Linked DNA regions of Homo sapiens: all the other regions are linked to region 1. Evidence: fine-mapped expression QTL. A gene starts in region 1. Each other region holds a variant in brackets. All regions are shown on one strand. Distances are between the middles of the regions. Region 1 holds the start of RAPGEF2 (Rap guanine nucleotide exchange factor 2). Region 2 overlaps RAPGEF2 (Rap guanine nucleotide exchange factor 2). Region 3 overlaps RAPGEF2 (Rap guanine nucleotide exchange factor 2).

Evidence for each region. PIP is the estimated chance that this variant, and not a neighbour inherited with it, causes the effect.
Region 2: its variant is the best candidate, but not a certain one, in a credible set for the expression of RAPGEF2 in monocytes after R848 (Quach 2016, PIP 0.55).
Region 3: its variant is the best candidate, but not a certain one, in a credible set for the expression of RAPGEF2 in whole blood (TOPMed, PIP 0.71).

What each region holds. Positions count from the first base shown.
Region 1 is chr4:159,099,850-159,108,038 of GRCh38, reverse strand. RAPGEF2 (Rap guanine nucleotide exchange factor 2) reads right to left here and starts at 4,960. Exons shown (of 30, transcript NM_001394067.2): 1 at 3,808-4,960. The coding sequence starts at 3,876. RefSeq lists silencers at 3,821-4,240, 4,208-4,502, 4,251-4,540, 4,581-4,800, 4,931-5,470 and an enhancer at 5,119-5,810.
Region 2 is chr4:159,251,178-159,259,366 of GRCh38, reverse strand. The region is part of intron 7 of RAPGEF2 (Rap guanine nucleotide exchange factor 2); the gene reads right to left. Among named protein-coding and RNA genes, the nearest start is that of MIR3688-1, 130 kb to the right of the region's middle. The variant TTTTTTCCAAGACATAA/A (reference allele first, on the strand shown) is at 3,471.
Region 3 is chr4:159,165,088-159,173,276 of GRCh38, reverse strand. All of the region lies in intron 1 of RAPGEF2 (Rap guanine nucleotide exchange factor 2), which reads right to left. Among named protein-coding and RNA genes, the nearest start is that of MIR3688-1, 40 kb to the right of the region's middle. RefSeq lists enhancers at 3,193-3,302, 3,543-3,652. The variant T/C (reference allele first, on the strand shown) is at 3,206.

The DNA of each region.
Region 1 (8,189 bases):
CATTTCTTTATGAGACATGCTTTTTAAATGGCATACAGATAGTTTAGTTGTATTCTATGAACAAAAACTATTTAAGAAACAAATATTACTAGAGCCCCAAAATGGGCTAAAATATAATGAGAGTATAAGCTGACAAATATGAGTCTGCTTATAAGCAATGGTAAAAAGAAACTCAAATGGAAAATTTAACTATAACAGACACAATTCTTCCATTAGATTTGAAAGTTAAATATTTGTCAGAGATATTCTTTCATGCCGTTTCTCATAATTTACAGTTCTCTGAGCTAAAGTTACTTTTTTCAGCCCTCTCATTATGACTCACGATGAATTCTACCAAGTACTTAGCAATGAATTAAGTCCTGTATTCTTTATAACACATCAATGAGTTAGTACTTATATCAAAAGTTGTAATAGCCCAAAAAAAAGTAAGATTATTAAATAGGAGGAGATGGGGTGGGGGTTATTTTACACATAACATTTTTAACAGTAACTTTTACAACTAGCTAAAAATGCATTACATTAGGTCTTTAAAGAGAAGAAACAGTTTTGCAATAGATGTTTCACCTGAAAAACTGAAAATGGTATGCATTTAGACACTCTACAGAAGCAATTTCAAAGGGCCTGAACTCAACAAGTTAACAAAATGGTTTAGAAAAACCATTTTATTGTATAAGCCTTGGGGGATAAAAGCTGTTTGTAATTTATTTACATCTTTTACTTCACCAAATTGCCTTGGTGACCAAGCTTCTCATTTAAGTGATTAAAGACATAAACCCAAATGGTTAAATAAAGCAATTACTTAAGAGTCCTGTTTTTCAACAGAGGTGCACTGAAAAATATCAGTAGAATGTTTTCAGGGCTCATTATTTTCAAGGAAGTTTGTTATTTAGAATACAATGCCCCATTGACTAGAACTCAGCCAGGTTTCCAGACACACAATATGGGACACACATTGGATTAGAGTTTTCCTCCTCCTCTCACAATATCAGGTGAAATAGTGATAGTCTCTTGAAACTGAGTATGTATAACCTGGCTAAAACTTAGATGATAATTTTTTTGGTATTTCTCCTTACTATTCCCCCTCTCTAAAGATATAACTGAAATGCGTTTCCATTGTGCAGGTGGACATGAAAAGCTCCCAATTTATGAAAGTTCCTGGTACTCTTCCCACCCCTAGATTCTCTTCTAGCCAACTTCTTAGGTTACACCAATGACATCAGGATTACTTCTAGGCAATTGATTGACCTAAATACAAAACTATGTTTTCACGGAGCTTGGGAAATGAATGAGGCCAGCAAGCCTTTAAAAAACAAACAGAAATGAACAGCAGGAAAAAAAATTACATATGTTCCCCAATTCTTTTCCTTTTGCCTATAACGAGAATCATGCAAACTCCTTTATCGAGTCTATCCTCAGAAACAGAAGGAAGCAAAACAGCAAAACTTTCCTAATTCCTGTCCTTCTGTTCATGATATCAAGCTTATTTAACATGGTTGCTTTTCTAATATTATAAAATTCGAACTCACAAACATTTATAAGACAAGGCTGTATGGAAAATCTTCCAGCGTTCCATTAACAAAGCATTCTTAACATAAAAAGTACCTTCTACAAAAACTTTTTTTTTTATAATTTTTGAGTAAATTTCAAATTTTTATAAGATTACTCCTGGCCAGTCAGGTAAAGATGGAAAACGTTCACATTTCGAACAACTTTCTCTTGAAAAGAAATAAACGTGGGGATTTGTAGTAATAACCAAACGAACATCAAAGTTAATAGGGCTGACACTTAGGAATGTTTGAAATGTTTGGTAGGTTTCCTTATGTTTACTTTTTCTATGAAGGTTTGGTAGGGCAAATGGGCTGCCTTCCGACTGTCAATAAAGCTTTCATGTCGTGGGTTAGTAGTAGCTGGCCCAGGCCAAGTTCTGTGTTGGGTCAGTTTTTACTCTATTCTACACAACTGGCAGGGGAACAGGAAAGTTTAACAGTTCATTTATTTGGCACAGTGGGCCCACAGTCACAGTGGAGGTTTTGTCTCTTCTAGTCTTGTTTGGTGACCCGCCCCCCAACCTGATAGTAGGTTTTAGTCATTGTTATTCTTCTAACTAATCAACCAAATGCACCACTTCCCCCTTCTCTAATTTCCACCAAAGGCCTCTGACATCATTTTCTGACCAGCCTTGCTAGGTTCTAATATTCTCAGCATGCGTAATTTCACTTGGCACTTAAAACAATATTCTTGAAAGGAAATGAAATATCTCACTGAAATCTGCTTTTCCTTCACACTGAGACAGGGAATGTGCATTTTCAGATGCAGAAGACTGATCCAACTGACCATTTTAAAACAAATAGATGAGAAAGGCATAGGAAAGGCAGCGTGTGCAACACCAAGAGAAGAACAAGATCAATGCAGGACATTCCTTGTTGGGATAAAAATAGTCTTTTAGAATGGGAACTTTCTGGAGACAGATAAATTTTCTTGTAAAATTACAGCCATCTTCCACACGTTTGATAAATATGTGCAATCTATCCATGATCTCCCAGATGTGACAGCTCCATCAAGGAAAATGAAAAATCAAAAACGGTACCAGGTGCCACTCTTGGGGCTTGTCCAAAGGCAGCCAGGGGAAGAGTCTATTTTATTATGCTCTCCCCACAGTAAATAATAATCAACATCAGAGAAGGAGAGCATTTGGATTTGAACAGATGGCATCCAACATCTAACAAGCGAAGCAACACTTTCAAGCATTAGATCCTAAATGTCTGATGGTCCCAAGGATCAGGAGGGCTTATTTGTCTTAAGAGGGTTGGCAGGCAGGATCTCCTATAGTCACCATCCCAACGCTTAGGAATATGCGTCATTATCCAGTCAGCAACTAAAGGCGGAGAAAATTAAGCTACCACATTTTTATAAAATTTCCCCCTCTCCAGTAAAACTTGAGACAACCAAATCCAACCCTATCAGCCGCTATAAGTAAGAGAAGAGTAAGCCTGCAGGTAAACAAATGTATAAAGGTTAACAAACTTATCTAATTTTGACAAGGTTGTGCAACACCAAAAGAATCCGCAGGGTGCCCTTCCCGAGGGTGTACTGGAACATGCCTGCTCTGCAGCTATGTCTGCAATTTAAACTAAAAGCACTAACTTAGCTATTCAACTTTTTTTCCCTTCAATTGAAAGCAGTATCCTTTAAAAAATAAAAGCAAAACAGTAAACATACAAACACCTCAATGTTTTACTGAAGGTCAGCATGGATTTGTCTTTAGCACAACCGTACAGGTTTCCTCCTATACCTTTCAAACACCACTGAACTCCAAGGGTCACTTGCAAGGGGAGGAACGGATCTGGAGTCAGAGGGAGCAAGAGTCGCTGCCCGAGGGGAGATGAGACTCCATCCCCTGAGATTCAGAGGCCACGGAGGGCGGCTGGGGAGAGGGAAAGCTAGAGAATTCACACATTCACACACATACACACACACACACACACTCTCTCTCTCTCTCTCTCTGTCTCTCCCTCTCTCTCTCTCTCTCTCTCTCTCTCTCTCTCTCTCGGCTGGGCAACATAGTGGGAAAGGTCAGTCATGGGGAGGGAAGAGTTAAGGAGCAGAATGTCAAGGAGAGGGAAAAATAAAACCAGGATAGGCGGAGTAAAAGACTCGGAGGTGGGATGCCTTTGGAAGTTGGGGGTCCTGATGCAAGAAGTGGGGTGCTCGGGGCGAACTGTGTCAGGAAGGAGGTGGGGGGACAGGGGAAGACGCAGCCTGCGAGGCAGAAATCCGGCCAAGGGCAGGCGGCCGCCGCGTTCTCACCTGGGGGGTCCTTTCGGGGGGATTCTTCATCACCGCCTGGCGGAAGCTGTTATCTACGTAGGACGCCATCTCCCCTCTGGGAGCGGGCCGGGGCCGCTCCGCACCCTGGCCGGCCTCCTCCCGGCCCAGCGCCGCTGCTGCCTCCGCCCTGCGCGCTGCGCCCGCCCGCCCGCCCGCGACTAATCAGCCAAACCGCGGCGGCGGCGGCGCGGGGCCCGCGGGGGGGCGGCTCGGCTGGGCCCGGCGGCCGAGAGCGCGGTACAGGCGCGAGGGGCTGGACGCAGCCGGGAGGGTCGCGGCGCCCCTAGGCTGCCGTGCGATGCGGCCCGCAGGCGGAACTCCCCTTCCTCCTCCTCCTCCTCTTCCTCGCCGCTCCGCCGGCTTCCTCCGGCCCTGGCTCGACACGCCTCCCCGGCTCCACTCGGGGGACAGTGGCGGCTCCTCCTGGCCCCAGCGGGCCCGAGTTATTTTTAGGGAGGTACGAGTGGCAGTGGGGAGGGCTGTGGGCAGGCGGAGCCTCCTCCCCCACGGCGCTGAGGGTCGCCCCCTCCTCTCAGGGGCTTGCGCAGCCGCCGCCCAGGGGTCTCCGAGAATCACTTGGATCTTCCGCGTCCCCAGTCCTCGGGCGCCTCGGCCGCCGGTCGGGAGGACGGACCAGGTGGGTCTGGCTCAGGTCCGGGCGCTGCGAAGCCCGATCGCCTCGGCCGCCGCTCCTGGTCTCTGTCTACTGGGCTCGGCCGTCCCTCCCGACTGCTGCTGCATCCCCTCGGGCCGCCCAGCCGCCGCCGCCGCCGCCTCTGCTGCTCGGGCCGCCGCTGTGGGCTCCGCCGCCGCCGCCTCCCCCCATCAGCGCGCCCGGAGCGGAGCTGCCCCGGCGCCGGCGCCGCCGCGGCCAGAGCACCCGGCCCGGGCTGCAGCCCTCCGGCCCAGTCGCTCTCGGCAACTTTGTTCCTCGTCTGCGCGGGGCGGAGGAGGGGGAAGAGGGGGCCGCGGACAGCCCGGGTTCGGACTCCCGGCGCGGGCGTCCGAGGGCCGAAAGCCGAGAGCCGCGCACAGCCCCCTCGGAGAGAGTGTTTGGGAAGCGGCGATTCCCCTCCTCTTCCTCCGCCTCTTCCTCCTCCTGCGCCTTCTCCGGCCGCCGGAGCCGCTCCTCAGGGAGGAAGCGGCCTCTGGGGCTTGTTGCTTTGTGCTGCAACCATGGTGAGGAATGAGTGACAGCGTGGGGGCGAGTCGGCGGCCGCCGCATCATCGGGGGGCGGGGCAGCCCCGTCGCGCCGGGTCCCGCCTCCCCGCTCCCCGCCCGCCAGCGGCCGCGCCCTCGCGTCTGAGCGGCACCTTCGGCGGCGCCCAGGTGAGCAGCGCTCTGGCCGCAAGTGGGTCGCGGAGCCCTCGGCCGGGCTGTCGGGTCCCGCGCGCGGCCTGGACCCGAAGAGGGGGCGCAAGTCCTGGTGCCCCGGAGAGAAGCGCAGGGCTTTCCTCACGCAGTGTCCCCCACTGTCTCACGCCGCGCCCCCTCCCCACACCCGACGCGCCCTACTAGGAGACCCAGCCGCGTCGGGTCGCTGCTCCCCGCCCGCTCCTGGCGCCACGCCGCCGCCCAGGGGCTGAAAGCTAACCTTGGGCAAAAGACCGGCCCACCAGCCCGGGCTGTACTGGGCATTCTTTTTGAGCCCAAGAGTTGCGTCCGAGTTGCTTCTGTGGCGATAAATCCTCTTAGGATTTATTTTGCTTATTTGTAATTTGCTGCACCCTCCCCTGCTTTCCAAGCCCACTCTGGCACCTCAGACAGTAAAATGACCACGAAATTAGGCAGAGAGGTTTCAACACCAGACCCACTACCACCCCTAGACCAACAAACACTCCAGATTTAAAGTTGATCACTCCTTAGCGACAGACCAGGATGGCAAGTTCTGTGACATAATCAGAAACATTTATTGGTAGGTCTGGCTTTGCCTTGGACAGAACAAGCCTCCTCCTCTAGATGCTCAAATTTCCAAACCGGACCCACATGGTGCAGAAACAATACCTCGTCCTTCAAGATGTCACCGCTCCTGCTGATTCCCTCAGCTCCCCCCCACTCCTTGCCCCGGCCACGTAGAGGTGTGTTAAGGTCAGCCCAAGCATCGGGGACCACTCTGCTGTTCTGGTCCCAGGGATTTATTTTTGTTTGCCCCCACCCCCCACAAGTTCTTATTTTGATATCTATAGACACAATGAGTTTTATGTATGAGCTACTGCGTTGAACTTTTCAAACATGATTTTCAACATCTAGTTTAAACACTTGGAATAGATTGTCAGCTAACATTTTGGGGTTCCTTAAGTCACCTGTGTGCACTAAACAGCTTGTGTGACTTCCTAGCAAAGGGACTGTCCCTGCCCAACCTTGTGAAAGGGAATCTGAGTTACAAATTGTATCTGTAGACCTTTTTATATTACTCTTGCTGGAACTGCTTCTCTATATTTCTCTTTCACCTCTTAGTTGAGCGCCAACATCAAATTCTCTATGACATAGGCCACTACCTTGAAAGCAAAGGAACATGAATAAGTGCCAATACAGCTCTGAAAAAAGGAGAGAGGCAGATAAAAGAATTCAAACCCAATGAAGTGAAAAAATATAACTGACATCTCCACCTGGTGTCTAATAGACATCTCAGAATTCACATGTGCAAACCAGGCTCCAGATCTCCTGTCTCAGACACCCACAGCCTTCCCCATCCTCTGTTAATCACATCTACACCATTCTCACTTCCTGGGTGAAAACGTTGACTTCCTTGACTCCTTTCTTTCTGTTATACCTCAAAAGTGTCAGTAAAAATCGTCAGCTCAACCTCCAGAATGCCATATCTGAACTCTAACCTTTATCTACCACTTCTACTGCCATGACCCTGGTGCAATCCAGCATCATGTCTGGCCAGCACTTTGTCATAACCACCCACCTGGTCCCCCTCTTTCTAACCTTGCTTGCCATACAGTTCATTTCCAACACAGCAGCCAAAGTGTGAATTCTTTTCACTCCTTCTCAAATCATTCCTCTGCTTAGCTCCTCATACCACTCAAGGTAAAAGCCAAAGTCTTACCATGGCCTGAATATCCTATGGACCTTTATCTCTCTGACCTCTTCTACTATTCTGTTCCCAAGCACATTAGCCTCCATGTTGTTTCTGAAACAGCAAATTCCAGTCTCATGACCTTTCCATCTGCTGTTCCCTCTACTGCCTGGATTATCTCTCCCCCTCTCCCCACCCCACTTGCACCCACAAAAACAAAAAACAAAAAGAAAAATGCACACACACAACAACCAAAATATAGAATGTTGTTCCTCATTGTCATCATATCTTCATTTGAATGTCACCTTCCCTGTAACTCCATACACTCTGGTTATCTTCGTCGCTTTACTTACCACCTAACATACTGTATATTGTACAGGTGCTTGCCCACTTAGGATGGGGTTACATCCTGAGAAACCATTGTAAGTCGCAAATATTGTAAGTCAGAAATGCATTTAATACCCTGATAAACCCATTATAAAGTGGAAAAATCGAAAGTCAATTTATTGACCATCGTAAATTGAGAACCATCTATACTTATTTATTTTATTTATTGTTTTATCCCTCCACTGTAATGTAAGCTTCTAAGTCAGGGATGTTTGTCCCTTTTATTTACTGCTATATCCTCAACACAAGACAGGCAGCCAACAAATAGGTATTAAATGGATACATGAAGTAGTTCATGTTACCTTGTATTTGTATGAGATTTTTACATACATTATCTCACTTGTGTCCCTGGTTGCGGGGAGAAAACTGGGAGAGGAAACTTAACCTCTCTGAGCCTGTTTTCTGTTTTATAAAAAGAGAGTACAAATTGAATAGTCTGGCCAGGCAAAGTGGCTTACACCTGTAATCCCAGCACTTTGGGAGGCTGAACCAGGAGGATAGCTTGAGGCCAGGAGTTCAAGACCAGCCTGGTCAACATAGCAAGACCACTGGCTGCACAAAAACTTAAAAAAAAAAAAGGAGCGGGGCATGGTGGGGTGCACTTGCAGTCCTAGCTACTCAGGAGGCTGAGGTGGGAGGTTATCTTGAGCCCCGGAGTTCAAGGTTGCAGTGAGCTATGATCACACCATGGCACTCCAGCCTGGGTAACAGAGCAAGACCCTGTCACAAAAAAAGAAAAAGTTGCATACCCTGAAGATTTGTGACGATCCAAGATAATACATGCAAAGTGCCTTGCATAGTGGTTTAACAACAGTATATACTCAATAAATGGTAGTTATATTTAAGATTATTCTCATCATTGCAACTCTCTGAGGCTAGTGGGACAGTGTTATCTTATTTACAGATGAAGAACTGACACTAAAATAGGCTACATGACTTGTCCTAGTT
Region 2 (8,189 bases), 150 kb before region 1:
GTCATCATTTCTGGATATTGGACATTGGACATTCTATGCCCCAGTCTCTTTCTTCAAAAGGCACTTAAATGGTATACTTCTAAAGCGGTTAAATTATTTGATATATATCTCCTTTGGGCCACATTTTAAGTTTAAATAACATAAAAAGCAATACATGTTAAATTCATTTTTAAAAATGAGTAATTTCATAGATTGGGAATGGGAAAGACCTATGTTTGGCTTTCTAACATTTACTACCTGAGTGACCATGAATATTGAACATGTTACTTAACCTCTTTGGCCAGTGCATGCTTATCTACTGACGGGGAAATACTGAACTGTGGGCTAGTTTCATTGACAAAACACATCAGTAAACATCTAGCAGACTGGTGTATCATAAACCTTCAATAAGTGTCAGTTTTATTCTCTCTAAAATATTCTAAAAAGTCAGCTGCATTCAAGCCTCGGCCAACCCATTAATTAATGTACAGTTGTCTGGGACTAAGTTCTTTGTGCTGATATCCTTGTATAGACCTGTTAAAGCAGGAAGATCTATAATGCCACTCCTAGAAATACTAAATAATGCTAATTTTGCAAGTTTGATCCAAAGATATCAACATGATACAACCAGGGTATTGCTGAGACCTGTATTATCTGTTGTGCAAAGGATATACACAATGGCATAAAGATACTATCTGCTTTCATAGACCTATTGAGTCTTCAGAAATTTAATATTTAACAAATACATTTTTATTTTTAAAAAATCTAGTGTCTGGAAATAAATATCAAACTATGTAAGTTTTCAAAATGGTTTAATAGTCTTTCTAAAAAAAAGAAAGTGACAGTAATTATAAATGGACGCATTAACCAACAGACTTTACTACCAGAAATAGAATTGTGCCTGCCCTTTTGTTGTAATCAAATACATTCCAGACGGGAAATGCTTCCAAATAAACTTGCCTGAAAAATAAATAAATATAGAAGACCATCTCAATATAGAAAATATTTTAAATGACACAAAAATTTCTAAAATATTTTCTTGAGAAAAAAGTCAGCCTACCAATACAGCCACATGAGTTTAAGATAACAGCATTCAATATTCCTTTTTATAAATAAATGAATAAACAAACAAAACACACACCTAATTTCTCCCTCTCTTTAGCAGCTCTAAAAAGGCATGGAGAGTATTTTACTATTCATATTTTAGTTACACTTTGAAATTGTCAGTTACTACCATTTTGATATTTACAAACCAAAGATAATACTAGAATATTTAATTGTAAATATCAGGTTATCATTATTAGAATTGCTAACAACTGGCCAGATAGTTCATGTTCATGGAAGATTACATTACCTAGGTGTGTCATAAAGTAGCATTTCATATTATTAATACAGGAAGGCATTCACTCATTAATTCTACAACTGACCCCTAAGACTTTAAATGGGATAGGACAAGAAACGAGAAATCAGGGATGAAAGAGCCCATATAGCCAAGACAATACTAAGCAAAAAGAACAAAGCTGGAGGCATCATGCTACCCTGACTTCAAATTATACAAGTCTACAGTAACCAAAACAGCATGGTACTGTTACAAAAACAGACACACAGACCAATGACACAGAATAGAGAACTCAGAAATAAGACTGCACATCTACAACCATCTCATCTTCAACAAACCTGACATAAGCAATGAGGAAAACATTTCCTATTTAATAAATGGTGCTGGGAGAACTGGCTAGCCACATGCAGAAAACTGAAATTGCTCCTTTCTTACACCTTTTACAAAAATTAACTCAAGATAGATTAAAGACTTAAATGTTGATATGATTTGGCTCTGCATCCCCAACCAAATCTCATTTTACAGCTCCCGTAATTCCCAAGTGTTGTGAGAGGGACTTGGTAGGAGACGATTAAATCATGGGGCGGGTCTTTCCTGTGCTGTTCTCATGATAGTGAATGGGTCTCATGAGATTTGATGGTTTTAAAGACGGGAATTTCTCTGCACAAGCCCTCTCTTTGCCTGCTGCTATCCACGTAAGATGTGACTTGCTCCTCCCTGCCTTCTGCCATGATTGTGAGGTTTCCCCAGCCAGGTGGCACTGTGAGTCCAATTAAATATCTTTCTTTTGTAAATTGCCCAGTGTCAGGTATGCCTTTATCAGCAGTGTGAAACTGACTAATACAAATGTAAAACCCAAAACTATTAACAATCCTAGAAGAAAATCTAGACAATGCCATTCAGGACACAGGCATGAGCAAAGGTTTCACAAAAAACAAAACAAAACAAAACAAAAACACCGAAAGCATTGCAACAAAATCAAAAATTGACAAAATGGGATCTAATTAAACTAAAGAGCCTCTGCACAGCAAAAGAGACTATCATCAGAGTGAATAGACAACCTACAGAATGGGAGAGAATTTTTACAATCTATCCACCTGACAAAGGTCTAATATCCAGAGTCTACGAGAAACAAAAAAAATTTACAAGAAAAAAACAGACAACTCCATTAAAAAGTGGGCAAAGGACATGAACAGACACTTCTCAAAAGACACTCATGCAGCCAACAAACATGAAAAAAACTCAAACATCACTGATCATTAGAGAAATTCAAATCAAAACCACAATGAGATACCATCTCACACCAATCAGAATAGCTGTTATTAAAAAGTCAAGTAACAACAGATGCCTGTGAGGTTGCAGAGAAAAAGAAACACTTACATTGTTGGTGGGAGTATAAATTAGTTCAATAATTGTGGAAGACAGTGTGGCGATTCTTCAAAGACCTAGAGGCAGAAATAGCATTTGACCCAGCAATCCCATTACTGGGTATATACCCAAAGAATAGAAATCATCCTATTACAAAGATACTCACACACATATGTTCATCACAGCACTACTCACAATAGCAAAGACATGGAATCAACCCAAATACCCATCAATGATAGACTGGATAAAGAAAACTTGATACATATACACCATGGCATACTCTGCAGCCATAAAAAGGAACAAGATCATGTCCTTTGCAGAGACATGGATGGAGCTAGAAGCTATTATCCTCAGCAAACTAACAAGGAACAGAAAACTAAACACTGCATGTTCTCACTTTTAAGAGGGAACACAGGGAGGGGAACAACAGACACTGTGGCCTGCAGGGGGCCATACTGGGAAGAACATCAGGATACATAAAGCTAATACATGGGCTTAATACCTAGGTGATGGGTTGACAGGTACGGCAAACCACCATGGCACACGTTTACCTATGTAACAAAGCTGTATATCCTGCACATGTATCCTGGAACTTTAAATAAAATTAAACTAAAAAAAGAGATCAGAGATGAATTTCAGAAATCATGTTGGTCAGTTCAACAGCATGCTAGACATAAACAAAATGTACTGATCATCTATGAAATGCTTACTAAAAGATTGTCTTAGAGCAAGTGTATAAAAAAACCTGTTTTCTGGATGGGTTATATTTTATAGGAAGTAAATA[TTTTTTCCAAGACATAA/A]AGCAAACTTAAAATCTGTTCGACAAAAATTTAAAAGTATATATCACTAAACTCAGTGAAGTTTTAAGATTAAAAACAAAATTAACAAGATATTAATAATCCAATCAACTACTACAAAACATGGTATTTACAATAAAAGTAAAAACACAGTATGGAAGAAAATGAGACTATTTAAAAAAAAATCTCTACCCAAAAACAATGCAAGAACCTATGGTGACCCCTTATCACGTAGAATATTCATCTGGCCATTTCAGTTTTCACCAAGGGAGACCCACCATTTCAGATTTGAGGAGTTGAGACAACATTTCTGGTGCCTTTCCAAAGGCAGCTCTATCCCCTCAGACAATTATTTTGCTTTATAGTAGCTGATTACCGAAAGAATTTTGAATGTCAGAGCACAGTCATGAGTTGCCAATCACACTTTGTGGTAACAAGGGAAACTGGTCACTTATGTCTTAATATAAGAACAAGGAGACAGAAAAAGACTGAAGGCAGCACAAAGGCACCAGTTAAAAAAAAAAAAACTATATATTCAAAATAGAGCAAAAGAAAGAGAAGAATTCTAGAAATAAGGTAAGGGGAGTTTTGAGAAGAAAGAAGTTTTAAAAATGGCCACACATCATAACGACAGAATGACGGGGAATACATTCCGAGAACGGCGTCATTGGGCAACTTTGTCTTTGTACAAACATCATGGGAGTGTACTTGCACAAACCTAGATAATGTTGCCTACTACACACCTAGCTAGGCTCTTTGGGATAGCCTATTGCTCCTAGGTGACAAATCTGTACAGCATGTCACTGTACTGAATCCTGCAGACAACTGTAATACAATAGTATTTGTATATGTAAACATACCTAAACACGGAAAAGCTACAGTAAAAATACTGTACTTCATCTTACAGGACCACTGTTGTGTATGTGGTCGTTCACTGACAAAAATGTCATTATGCACCACAGGACTATTTAAAGTCTCATGCTGGTGGGGCATGGTGGCTCACGCCTGTGATCCCAGCACTTTGGGAGGCCGAGGCAGGCGGATCACCTGAGGTTAAGAGTTCGAGACCAGCCTGGCCAATATGGTCAAACCCTGTTTCTACTAAAAATTAGCCAGGCGTGGTGGCACACGCCTGTAGTTCCAGCTACTTGGGACGCTGAGATGGGAAAATCATTTGAACCCAGAAGACAGGGGTTGCAGTGAGCGGAGATTGTGCCACCTCACTCCCGCCTGGGTGACAGAGCAAGACTCTGTCTCATTTAAAAAAAAAAAAAAAAAAAAAAGTCATGCTGTATTAGGTACAGATTTTGGACTTGTCAGCATCCACAATAGCATACGCCAATTCCTGAATATCTCCTTCCCTTAACGCTCCACTGGTTCTGTTTATTTGCAGAACTCTATTATATTATGCAAATAAAATCTGAAAAACCAGTGAATCAAATCTGTAAGAGACTAGTTCACAAAGTATGGTCTCAGGACCCCTGAGGGTCCCCAAGACTCTTAAGAGTTCATAAAGTCAAACTATGTTTTCATTATGACATTAAAATGTTACTTGCTTTTTTCACTGCGCTCAAGTGCAAAAGCAAAAATGGGTAAAACCTAACTGATGTCTTAGGATATATCAAGACACTGGCATCACTACTACTATGTAACTACTGTTATTACCAATATTGTCCTTGTATTCTTTACCACCACTCACAGTGGCAAAAAAAGAAAATGCCAGTATTAAAGTGTCCTTGATAAAGCAGTAATAATTAATTACATTATATCTCCACCCATTAGTATACGTCCTTTTAATATTCTGTATGATGAAGCGAGAAGTTTGCATAAAGCACTTTTGTTACAATGTACAATGGTTGTCTCAAGGAAAAGACGTGCAATTATTCCAGTCGTAAGTGAACTGGCACCTTTTTTTCACAGAAAAACATTTTCTTTTTTTTTGAGACGGAGTCTCGCTCTGTTCCCCAGGCTCACTGCCAGCTCCGCCTCCTGGGTTCACGCCATTCTCCTGCCTCAGCCTCCCGAGTAGCTGGGACTACAGGCGCCCACCACCACACCCAGCTCATTTTTGGTATTTTTAGCAGAGACGGGGTTTCACCGTATTAGCCAGGATGGTCTCGATCTCCTGACCTCGTGATCCGCCCGCCTCGGCCTCCCAAAGTGCTGGGATTGCAGGCATGAGCCACCGCGCCTGGCCACAGAAAAACATTTTCATTTGAAAGAACAAATAATAAAAAAAAAAACTATGGTTATTCGGAATTGGGTATCTGGCAGGTATTTTCTAAAAACGAACAAAATGAGCTTGTCATTTGAAGAAAAACAGATGATAATAATTTGCTAATGATAAAATTTGAAGTTTCAACTAAAAGAATTTTGAAAAACATATCTAACACAGTAAGTCTGACAGCTTCTTAATAATTAAGGCCCTTTCTTTATGAGATCTGTGGTGGTATTAACAAATGTGACTTTTCTTTATATTGTATAATGCGCCAAAATTCAGAAGACTGTTTAACCCAGTGACCAATGCATGATGTTACAAAAGTATGCATAAGTAAAAAGATCCTTTCATTGTGCAATTAAGACCAATGGGTTTTAATAAAAGAGAGTAAGGCAAGTTACACTAACATGGTTTTAAATTCCTCATTGCAACTGATCTTTAAGAAACCACTACTGGTCAAATTTTGGTGCAGTCTTTGAAAGAACACCCACATTTATTTTTGAAAGCTGTTAAAATACTCTTCCCTTTTCCAACTACCTATGCATGTGAGGCCAGATTTTCTTCATATACTTTACATACTTCAACCAGAACAGCATATCACAACAGATTGAATACAGATGTGAGAACCCAACTGTCTATTAGACCAATATTAAACATATTTGCTAAAGTATCAAACACTATCATTCTTCTTATAAATTTGTTTTATATTTCCCCTTAAAAACCCTCATGTTAATGTGTAATGGGTGTATCACTATTTTTAAGTTAATCAATGGATACATATTTAAAACTTTTTGTTTCAATTTTTAATATGGTAAATAATAAACAAAAGCTCATTAGAGCCAAAAATTTTTTTTAGAAGTTTAAAGGAGTCCAGAGATGAAACTGTTTGAAAACTGCTGCAACTAGAAAACAATCGGCCTCTCTTAGCTGATGTGAAAGAATGCAGTTATCAACTGTCCTTAGATTTCCTGTTTACACCCACTTCAGCAGAACCCTCTGACAACTTAATCCGCTTGCAGAATAGCTGGCTGCTCTTTCAGTCTAACCAAAGTTAATACTAAAATTTAGGCAAAAGTTTATACTACAGAGTAATTTTTAAACTGAGCCGTCAGTATTCCTCAAAAATGCCCACTGTAAATGACATCAAGAATATCAACGATGCTCAAGTATTCTCTACATCCCAGTTGGTTAGGGATATGCTTATTTCATAAATTAACAAATGGCAAAATGATCCCTTTCTAAAAACTTTCTTAAGTGTTCCAAAAGTCCTGATGATTGAAACATTTTTTTTAAAGGTTCAGTTTAAATTTTTGTATAAAGAAATACAGGGCCAGGCGCCTATAATCCCAGTACTTTGGGAGGCCAAGGCAGGCAAATCGCTTGAGCTCAGGAGTTCAAACTCAGCCTGGGCAATATGGCGAAACCCTGTCCCTACAAAAAACACGAGTGTGCTGGCTCACGCCTGTAGTCTCAGCTACTAAAGAGGCTGAGGTGGGAGGATCTCTTAAGCCTGAAAAGTGGAGTTGTGTCTCCGGAATTGGTGGGTTCTTGGTCTGGCTGACTTCAAGAATGAAACCACAGACCCTCACGGTGAATGTTACAGTTCTTAAAAATGGTGTGTCCAGAGTTTGTTCCTTCAGATGTTCAGATGTGTCTTTGTTCCTTCTGGTGGGTTCGTGGTCTCTGACTTCAGGAGGGAAGCTGCAGACCTCCGCGGTGAGTGTTACCGCTCTTAAAGACGTGGCAGACCCAAAGCGTGAGCCGCAGCAAAATTTACTCCACGCTGTGGAAACGAACCCAAGCAGATCGCGGCGGCAAACTGGGCAGCCTGTTTATTCCCTTATCTGACCCCACCCACATCCTGCTGATTGGTCCATTTTACAGAGAGCTGATTGGTCCATTTTACAGACAGCTGATTGGCCCGTTTTGACAGGGTGCTGATTGGTGCATTTATAATCCCTGAGCTAGACACAGAGTGCTGATTGGTGCATTTACAACCCTCTAGCTAGACATAAAAGTTCTCAAAGTCCCCACGAGACTTGCTAGACACAGAGCACTGATTGGTGCGTTTACAAATCTTTAGCTAGACAGAGTGCTGATTGGTGCATTTACAATCCTCTCGCTAGACATAAAAGTTCTCCAAGTCCCTACCAGATTAGCTGGATACAGAGTGCTGACTGGTACATCCACAAACCCTGAGCTAGACACAGAGTGCTGATTGGTACATATACAATCCTCCAGCTAGACACAAAAGTTCTCCAAGTCCCCACTCTACTCAGGAGCCCAGCTGGCTTTGCCTAGTGGATCCCACGCCTGGGACGCGGGCAGAGCTCCCCACCAGTCCCACACTGCACTCCTCAGCCCTTGGGCAGTCGATGGGACCAGGCGCTGCAGAGCAAGGGACGGCGCCCGTCGGGAAGGCTCAGGCAGCACGGGAGCCCACGGAGGGTGGGGGGCTCGGACATGGCGGGCTGCAGGTCCCGAGCCC
Region 3 (8,189 bases), 65 kb before region 1:
TGCCTCTTAGCAAAAAAGAAGTACTCTTTGAATGGAAGGTTTTAAATATAGAAAATTTCATTGTAGCCATTTTTCTAGGACAAAAGACAAAAATAATTTGACATCTGTTTTTCCCATCTTGAATGTTTTACCAAGGAGTCAACCACCAATAGTACTACTTATTCTCAAATTTTCTATTTCTCAAGAGGACAGGAGAAGCAAATGAGAATATTCGACATATGTAATTAAAGCCTTCCACTATTGGTCAGAAAATGAGCTAAAATGCTAAAGAAATTTTAGGTCTGTTCAAAATTGATCTCTTTTAGACCTATCCATGAAAGGTGAAGGAGCAGAGAAGAGGAATAGTTTATCCAATCAGATAAACTATTTAGGGAAAGGGTGCAGAGGAGGGCAGTTACAGAAAATGCTGGGTATTACTGAATTTCAAAGAAGAATCAGAGACTTAAAAATATGTAAAAATATGTATTTTCTAATCAAGTGCTCCACTAGAAGGGACAGCAAGTTATAGTTTCTGAAGTATCTCACCTTTCAATACATGTTTTGAATTCTCCTTTGAAGCTAAGAATCTCACTTTACTTATCCTACTGATAACTGTTCTACCTCCCCCACTTACAGAGGAAGTAGCATGCGTGCATTACAACTTAAAATTGTACATGTGTACATTTGATTTATATGACAGACTCCATCACATTCATAAATAAGTAGACCTTTACCTTCACAACATTGATACTCTGACATCCCACCCCCAACATTTAAAGCCCTCAGATCATCATTACCAAGATTCTCCAGAAATCAGAAGGAAGCAAAGAGCCCTTGGGGTGGTAAGAGTGAATATCCTATGAAGTCAATTACTGCAGAGCAGCCATCACAATCAGAAAGGAACATGAATAGGGAAGGTAGGAGAACGGTTCCCAACTTCACATTTCCTAAAATACTTGTGCATAACTTAAAATGTGTGTTGCCTCAGGGCCAGTGTTATAAAGGGTGGTTGGGTCTATCAGCTACTGCATCCGAGAACTACAGGACCCATACAGGAAGAAGGAAAAGGAAGCTATAAAATATTTTCTTGGTAAAAGATTTCAAAGAAGGCTAGTGAAAAGGTTCCAAATGTAGGTCCACCAGAGAATTCTCACTAGTGTGTGGCAAAATGAGAGATTAAGGACAATGAGTTGAGATCCTTGATAAGCTTAATGTATTCCATTTAAAGAGTTCTCCTTTATTGTGGGACTGTAACCTTCCCTTTTTTTTATAATGTCATTACTTGAAATTATATTGATACTAGATAGTAGTTCACTGTTTTATCTAATATCCTTAACAGAAGAAATGTTTTAAGTTGCCTACCCTATTTTGGTGCTGTAACTCTTGAACGGTAGTATGAAGGGCAATGGTCTTGGCTTGATGAAAATCCAAAAACTTGGGACACTTGTCTCTGACACCTACCTAAAGCAATCTTACTGAGTGAGTGAGGTGACTGCAAAGTTGCAGAATTATTTACCTTTTACTTCCGGCTCTTATTCTCTATGAAAACTTTCCAGAAAAAAGTATTCTAGGTATTTTGACCCTATCCCATGAAAGATTCTTAAAAAAAAAAATTTAAGAGACACTCCTTTTACATGAAAGATATCTCTAGAACTACTAGTGGAACTCTGGGCCTTGGTATAGAACGAAAAATTTGCAAAATGATGTAGGAAGATGTTGTGGACAGAACAGGTAATCACAGTGCACCTTTCCAGGCAATTCCCCTGCATACTCTCTGCTTGCCAGGCCACTAGGCAGATGAGTCACTTGAGCAACACTGACTGAGTTCAGTATCTGACTGCCATTTACCAGCTTGGCATCCCTGAACAAGTCACTCAACCTCTCTGTGGCTCAGTCTCTCCACCCGTAAAATAGGAATAATAAGAGTATCTAAGATTTTCTAAGCGAATCATCAGTGCCTTGACGTGTAGTAGGCACTTTCTTTTATGAACACTGGCATGTGGAACATTATTGTTGTTCAAGTTAAAGGTAATTATGAAAATCAAACGGAGAGGAGTGCCTCAGGGTGAAGGAGGTTATCAGTAACTCTTTGGCTTCTGCCAAAATATGTCAGGCTGCAGAGATTTCCTACAACATACTCAAAACAGCATTTTAGTTTATCTTTTTTGTTTTCTTAGATAATGTCTGGTCTTAAAGTAAAATAACAATGTTGCAACACTCTAATAGTAGACCACTTAAGAAGTAGACAGGGTAACAGAACAGAGAGATCAGAAATAAATCCACCATTTACAGTCAACTGATTCTCAAAAAAGGTACCAAGAGCACACAATGGGGGAAAGAAGAGTCTCTTCAATAAATGATGTTGAGAAAACTGGGTATCTACACATGCAGAAGAATAAAATTAGACCCTTATTAATACCATACACAAAATAAACTCAAAATAAAGACTTAAACGTAAGACCTGGAACCGTAAAACTAATAGTAGAAAACATCTGAAAAGTTCCATGACATTGGTACAGGCAATAATTTTCTGGAAATGACCCCAAAAGTAAAGGCAACAAAATCAAAAATAGATGAATGGGATCACATCAAACTAAAAAGTTTCTGTATAGCCAAGAAAACAGTTGGGCTAAAGAGACAACCTACAGAATGGGAGGAAATAAAGCTGACCCTTAGTATCCATGATGGGTTGCTTCCAGAACCCGCCCCCGAGGATTTTCCTTATATAAAATGGCATAGGGTTTGCGTGTAGCCTATGCACATCCTTCCATATATTATCTCTAGATTACTTATCGTATCTAATGCCATGTAAATACTATGTGAATAGTTGGTGTTATACTGTATTGTCTTTTTTACTGTATTAGTTTTTACTGTTGTATTGTTTGTTTATTGGTTTTTTAAAATATCTTCGATCCATGGTTGGTTGAATCTGCAGGTGCAACCTGAGTGTATGGAGGGCTGACTGTATTTGCAAACCATACACCTGATAGGGGGTTAATATACAAAATATATAAGAAAAACAACTCAATAGCAAAAAAACACAAGTAACCCAATTTCAAAATAGGAAAAGGACCTGAATAGACATTTCTCAAAAGACTACAAATAGCCAACAGGTATATGAAAAAATGTTCAAGATCACTAATCATCCAAGAAATGCAAATTAAAACCACAACAAAACCTCATACATGTAAGAATGGCTGTTTAAAAAAAAAAAAAGAGATGAGCA[T/C]TGAAGAGGATGTGAAGAAAAGAGAAATTCTCACTGTTGATGAGAATGTAAATTAGTATATTCATTATGGAAAACAGTATGGAGGTTCCTGCAAAAAAATTAAAAATAGGACTACCATATGATCAAGCGGTCCCACTACTGGCTATATATTCAAGGAAATGAAATCACTATGTTGAAGAGATGCCTGCACTCCCATGTTCACTGCACCATTATTCACAACAGCTGAGATACGGAATCAACCTAAACGTCCCTCAATGGATGGATGAAGAAAGTGCGGTATATAGGTATAACAGAATATTAGCCTTAAAAAAAATGAAATCCTATTATTTATGACAATATAAATGAACCTGGAGGATATGTTAAGTGAGATAAGCCAGGCGTACAAAGGCAAATACTGTGTGATTTCATCTATATGTAGAATCTAGAGAAGTTGAATTCACAGGAGTAGAGAGTTCCCACAGTGGTCACAAGGGGCTGGGGAGGGGGGGCTGTTGGGGAGATGTTGATCAAATGACACAAAATTAGCTAGGAGGAGTAAGTTCAAGAGCTCTAATGTACAACATGGTAACTACAGTTAACAACAATATATTGTATTCTTAAATCACTAAGTAAATTTTAAGTGTTCTAACCACAAAAAATAAGTTGAGGTAATATGTATGTTAATTGGCTCAATTTGGCTATTCCACAATGTATGCATATTTCAAATCACGTTGTACACCATAAATACCTATAATTTTTATGTATCAATTTTAAAAATAAACTTTTAAAAACAAGAGAACAGCAGAATTTGACGTGTAATTGAGTATTTAATTAAACACACATTTTTTTTCCTAATACAAATGACAACTTTTATTTAGTCTCAAATTTCCACATAGATTGGGAGTTGAGGGGGGTTCCAAAATCTGTTCAGATGTTATCCTTTCCCTTCATTTGCAGTTCACTGGTCAATTCAAAGTATTGAATACTTGCTCTGTGCAAAGCACTGTGCTGGGATGTTGCCTTGGGGATACAAAGGTTGGTACAATATACTCTGGTCCTCAAAGAAACTCAGTTTGCTAGAATAGATAAAAGATTCTCACAAATGGCCACAATGCAAGATAGAAATTCAATTATGAATAACGGTTGTCAGAAGACAAGTTTTCTTACTCCCAAATTCACAAATGCTTTCTTCCACTCTACCACTGCTGCCAGCTGATATCAAAACTTCTATATCCTATCACATATATTCTTCTCTTCTAGCCTTTGATCCTCAAGCTACCTACAAAGCAATTATATGAAAAATAATAAATACCCATAACTTCTCATTCTTTCCATTGGAAAACTGTTACTGAGTACCTCCTACGCATAATGAAACGTGACCGTATCCTACATGTATCATCAGGTCCTTTTATCATTAGAAAAGAGGTGTCGTTTTCAAAGTATACCCTTTTACTATTTAAATTTATGACAGTTCAATAATAATTTAATATAAAGTGATGTCTTCTGCCAAAATGTACTAATAAATCTGCATGCTCTTGGGGATGAAACCCAACTTGGCAGAACCACCAGCTGTGCTGAACCATGTGTGGGGCCTGGCTGCCCGGCATCTAGTCTGCCTCCTTTGCAATGAACTGGGGAGGGAAAATAAAAATAAAAAGGGGAGGCCAAGGATGGATTTGTTTCCTGACTGTTCACTGGTCATTCACTGTAATGTTCTGGCTATCAAATGCACGCATAGGTATGTGTGCTTCAAGAATACCTGGAAATACATTCCTTTGAATATTGTAATTAGTAGTAATTCCTCAGCCTTTCTGGGGAGATTTGGCTTGTGAAAACATTCAACATACTCACCCAGACTTAAGCCTGGTAAAGGGGTTGAATATATTTAAGTTCAATCAGGCTCAAAAACAACATACTGTTGTATGAAAGTAAAGAGGTAACTTCCTTGTAGAATTCACTAAACAACTCTGGCAATAACCCCAACATAAATTCTAAACCTGTTTTGAGTAATGGCACCAAGGTTTTTATAAAAACTGCGTCACTGGACAACATGACAAAATTTCAAGATCATACATATTTACACATATGAGCCTCACCACCTTATTTTTAAATTTCATTTCATCATAGTTGATCCTAATTTTTACTGTAATAGAAAAATGTTAGTAAATCAAAGACAACAATACTTGTGGAAGTAAATCTACCACTACATTAAACAGGTACATTCCTTTGGTCCATTTTCTCAACTATCCAGTTATTGTATAACTTTTGGGAATCTGATCTTTGCCCCTAAATTTACTGAAATTTGTTTCTCCAAGATCACCAGTGATCTCTTTAAAGCAAATCCTTTTTTCTTCTTGTGCCAAGAATAGTGTCAAGCTCTATTCTAGATGCCAGGAACACACTAGCATACAAAACAGAGAAAATCATTGTCCTTTCTAGTAAGACAAACAATATTAAATAGAACATTTTTTAAAATTTGACAGTGACACACAAGAAGAAAAAAAATCACAAAAGGAAAGGGTATGAAACTTCGGGAAGGCACCCAGTGCTGTGTGGCCAGTCCTTCCCCTTGGGTCTTTCCCGGCCCAACATGGGCTCTGCAGTCTCTCCATGTTAGGTACTCCCAGGGCTGGGCTTTGAACCGTCATTCTTCTTCATAAGGATCCTTCCCTAAGATATCGCATCTATTCTCAGCCTATCTTTACAACTGACTCCTGGACTCTGACTTTTTTTTACAAACCACCACAATTCCCAGCTGATTAGTTACCATTTGAAGCTGCTGAAGCGTCATTTCAAATGGTAACTAAACTTCACACTAAATTTCCCCCAAAAAACTGGCCACATGTTTAGATTTCTCTACTTCTGGTGCCTGCACCAGTGTCCCAGCTATTCCAGTGAAAACCACGTAGGAGTTTTCAACTTAGTAGCAACTATTTTCTCTTTTTTCACACATTTAATGAGTCGTGGTTTTTTTTAATCCTGTAAAGTCTCCTGTCATACTTTTCTTTTTGATTTCTATTTTCTATGCCATGGTCATTTCGGGGCCTTCTCTTCTTTCACCATGTACAACATAAACCAATTAAAGGACCCCAAGTCATTTTTTAGGCGGTTGCCCTACCCTGCTGTAATATGTCCCTTGATCACCAAATTTCAACTGTGTTACACAGGCACATCATGCAGCATCTGAGGTCTATTCCAGTGTTTGCCCACATCAGCATCCACTACCCAATCCATCCTGATGGGCAACTCAACTCATATCCTCAGAGAAACCTTTTTGGACCCCTTCTCTAATCTCATCAACATTTACTCATGTATCACAAATAAGGAAGTTTTCATATGTTCATTTTTATTGTCGGTTTTTTTAATGTATATATGAAATACCTGAGTAAACAAGACAATATAGACACTACTCAATAAAGACTGTATTGCTCCCATACAGGGACCATACCCTATACCTCTTTTTACTCCCCACAATCCCTAGGAAACTGGATTCTGGAATTCTGGAACTCAAGTGGCAGAAAGCTCTGTAGCAATGGCTGTGTTAACTTCTCTAGGTTAACTACAAAGTAGATCAACAAAGTAATGAGACTAAAATCCCACAGCAGAGGTAAAAATGCATGTCTGATCAATACTTATTATCTGCAAAACAGTACATTTCCTCTAGACGCACTCACCCCTCACCCCACAGGCCTCTGCCACACCCAGTCTCATTGCCAGAGCCCTGAGGGTTTGCTCAGTTTTGATTTATGCCTCTGCCCTTTTCCTTACATTTTTTTTTTGAGATGGAGTCTTGCTCTGTTGCCCAGGCTAGAGTGCAGTGGCATGATCTCGGCTCACTGCAACCTCCGCCTCCTGGGTTCAAGCAATTCTCCTGCCTCAGCCTCCCAAGTAGCTGGGACTACAGGTGCCCGCCACCACGCCCAGCTAATTTTGTGTATTTTTAGTAGAGATGGGGTTTTGTCATGTTGGCCAGGCTGGTTTCAAACTCCCAACCTTGTGATCCACCCACCTCCCAAAGTGCTGGGATTACAGGTGTGAGCCAATGCTCCCGGCCCCTTTTCCTTACATCTTTGGAGCACTAATCCACTTTTGACTAGTCCTACTTCCTAATTTCTTATTTCATTGTTCAATGACTTTTTAAAAAAATCTTTCTTGTAACCTCTGTGATTTCTTTTCACATTTTCCAAAATGTCCATTGTTAGCTAGGCACAGTGGTTCATGCCTGTAATCGCAGCACTTTGGGAGGCAGAGGCTGGAGGACTGCCTGAGCCCATAAATTCGAGACCAGCCTGGGCAACATAGCGAGACCCCAACCCTACAAAAACTAAACAAATTAGCTGGGCATTGGGGTAGGCGCCTGTAGTCTTTCCCTACTCAAGAGGCTGAAGTCAAGACTGCAGTGAACTGTGATCCTGCCACTGCACTCCGGCCTGGTCAACGGATTGAGACCCTCTCTCAAAAAAACAAACAAAAATCCATTGTTTACACAATCTGATGTCCAGTATCCAACATGCTAAAATGAAAATACCTGCTCTTATATTCAACCTGATATGAATTATTCACTAATGATAACCTGACTTCAAAAACCTTTAGGCAAAGAGAAGACACATTTAATTATATTTATGTATACAGATAGAGATATATAGATATACATACAATTATATAAAATAATTACCAAAACATATCCGATCTGAATGATTTCCTCCAAGTTAAAAATGTATTGACTTTAAAATAAACATGAAAATGAACCAGGTAGGAAAAAATAGTTACTCCAGAAAAGATTAAAACTTTGTACCAGTTGGTCTATTTTAATGTTCTATTTTATAAAGTAGTATTTAAAACAAGACTCCTTTGTAATGAGTCATCATTTAATTAATATCCAAATACCTTGAGAGCCCATAACAGTTCAACAAAACAGCTGGAAATCAAATATCGGAGATAATTACTCACAGCTGGCTTTATTCAACTGATGTCATATTAAATAAGCTTATCCTACAGACCTTTT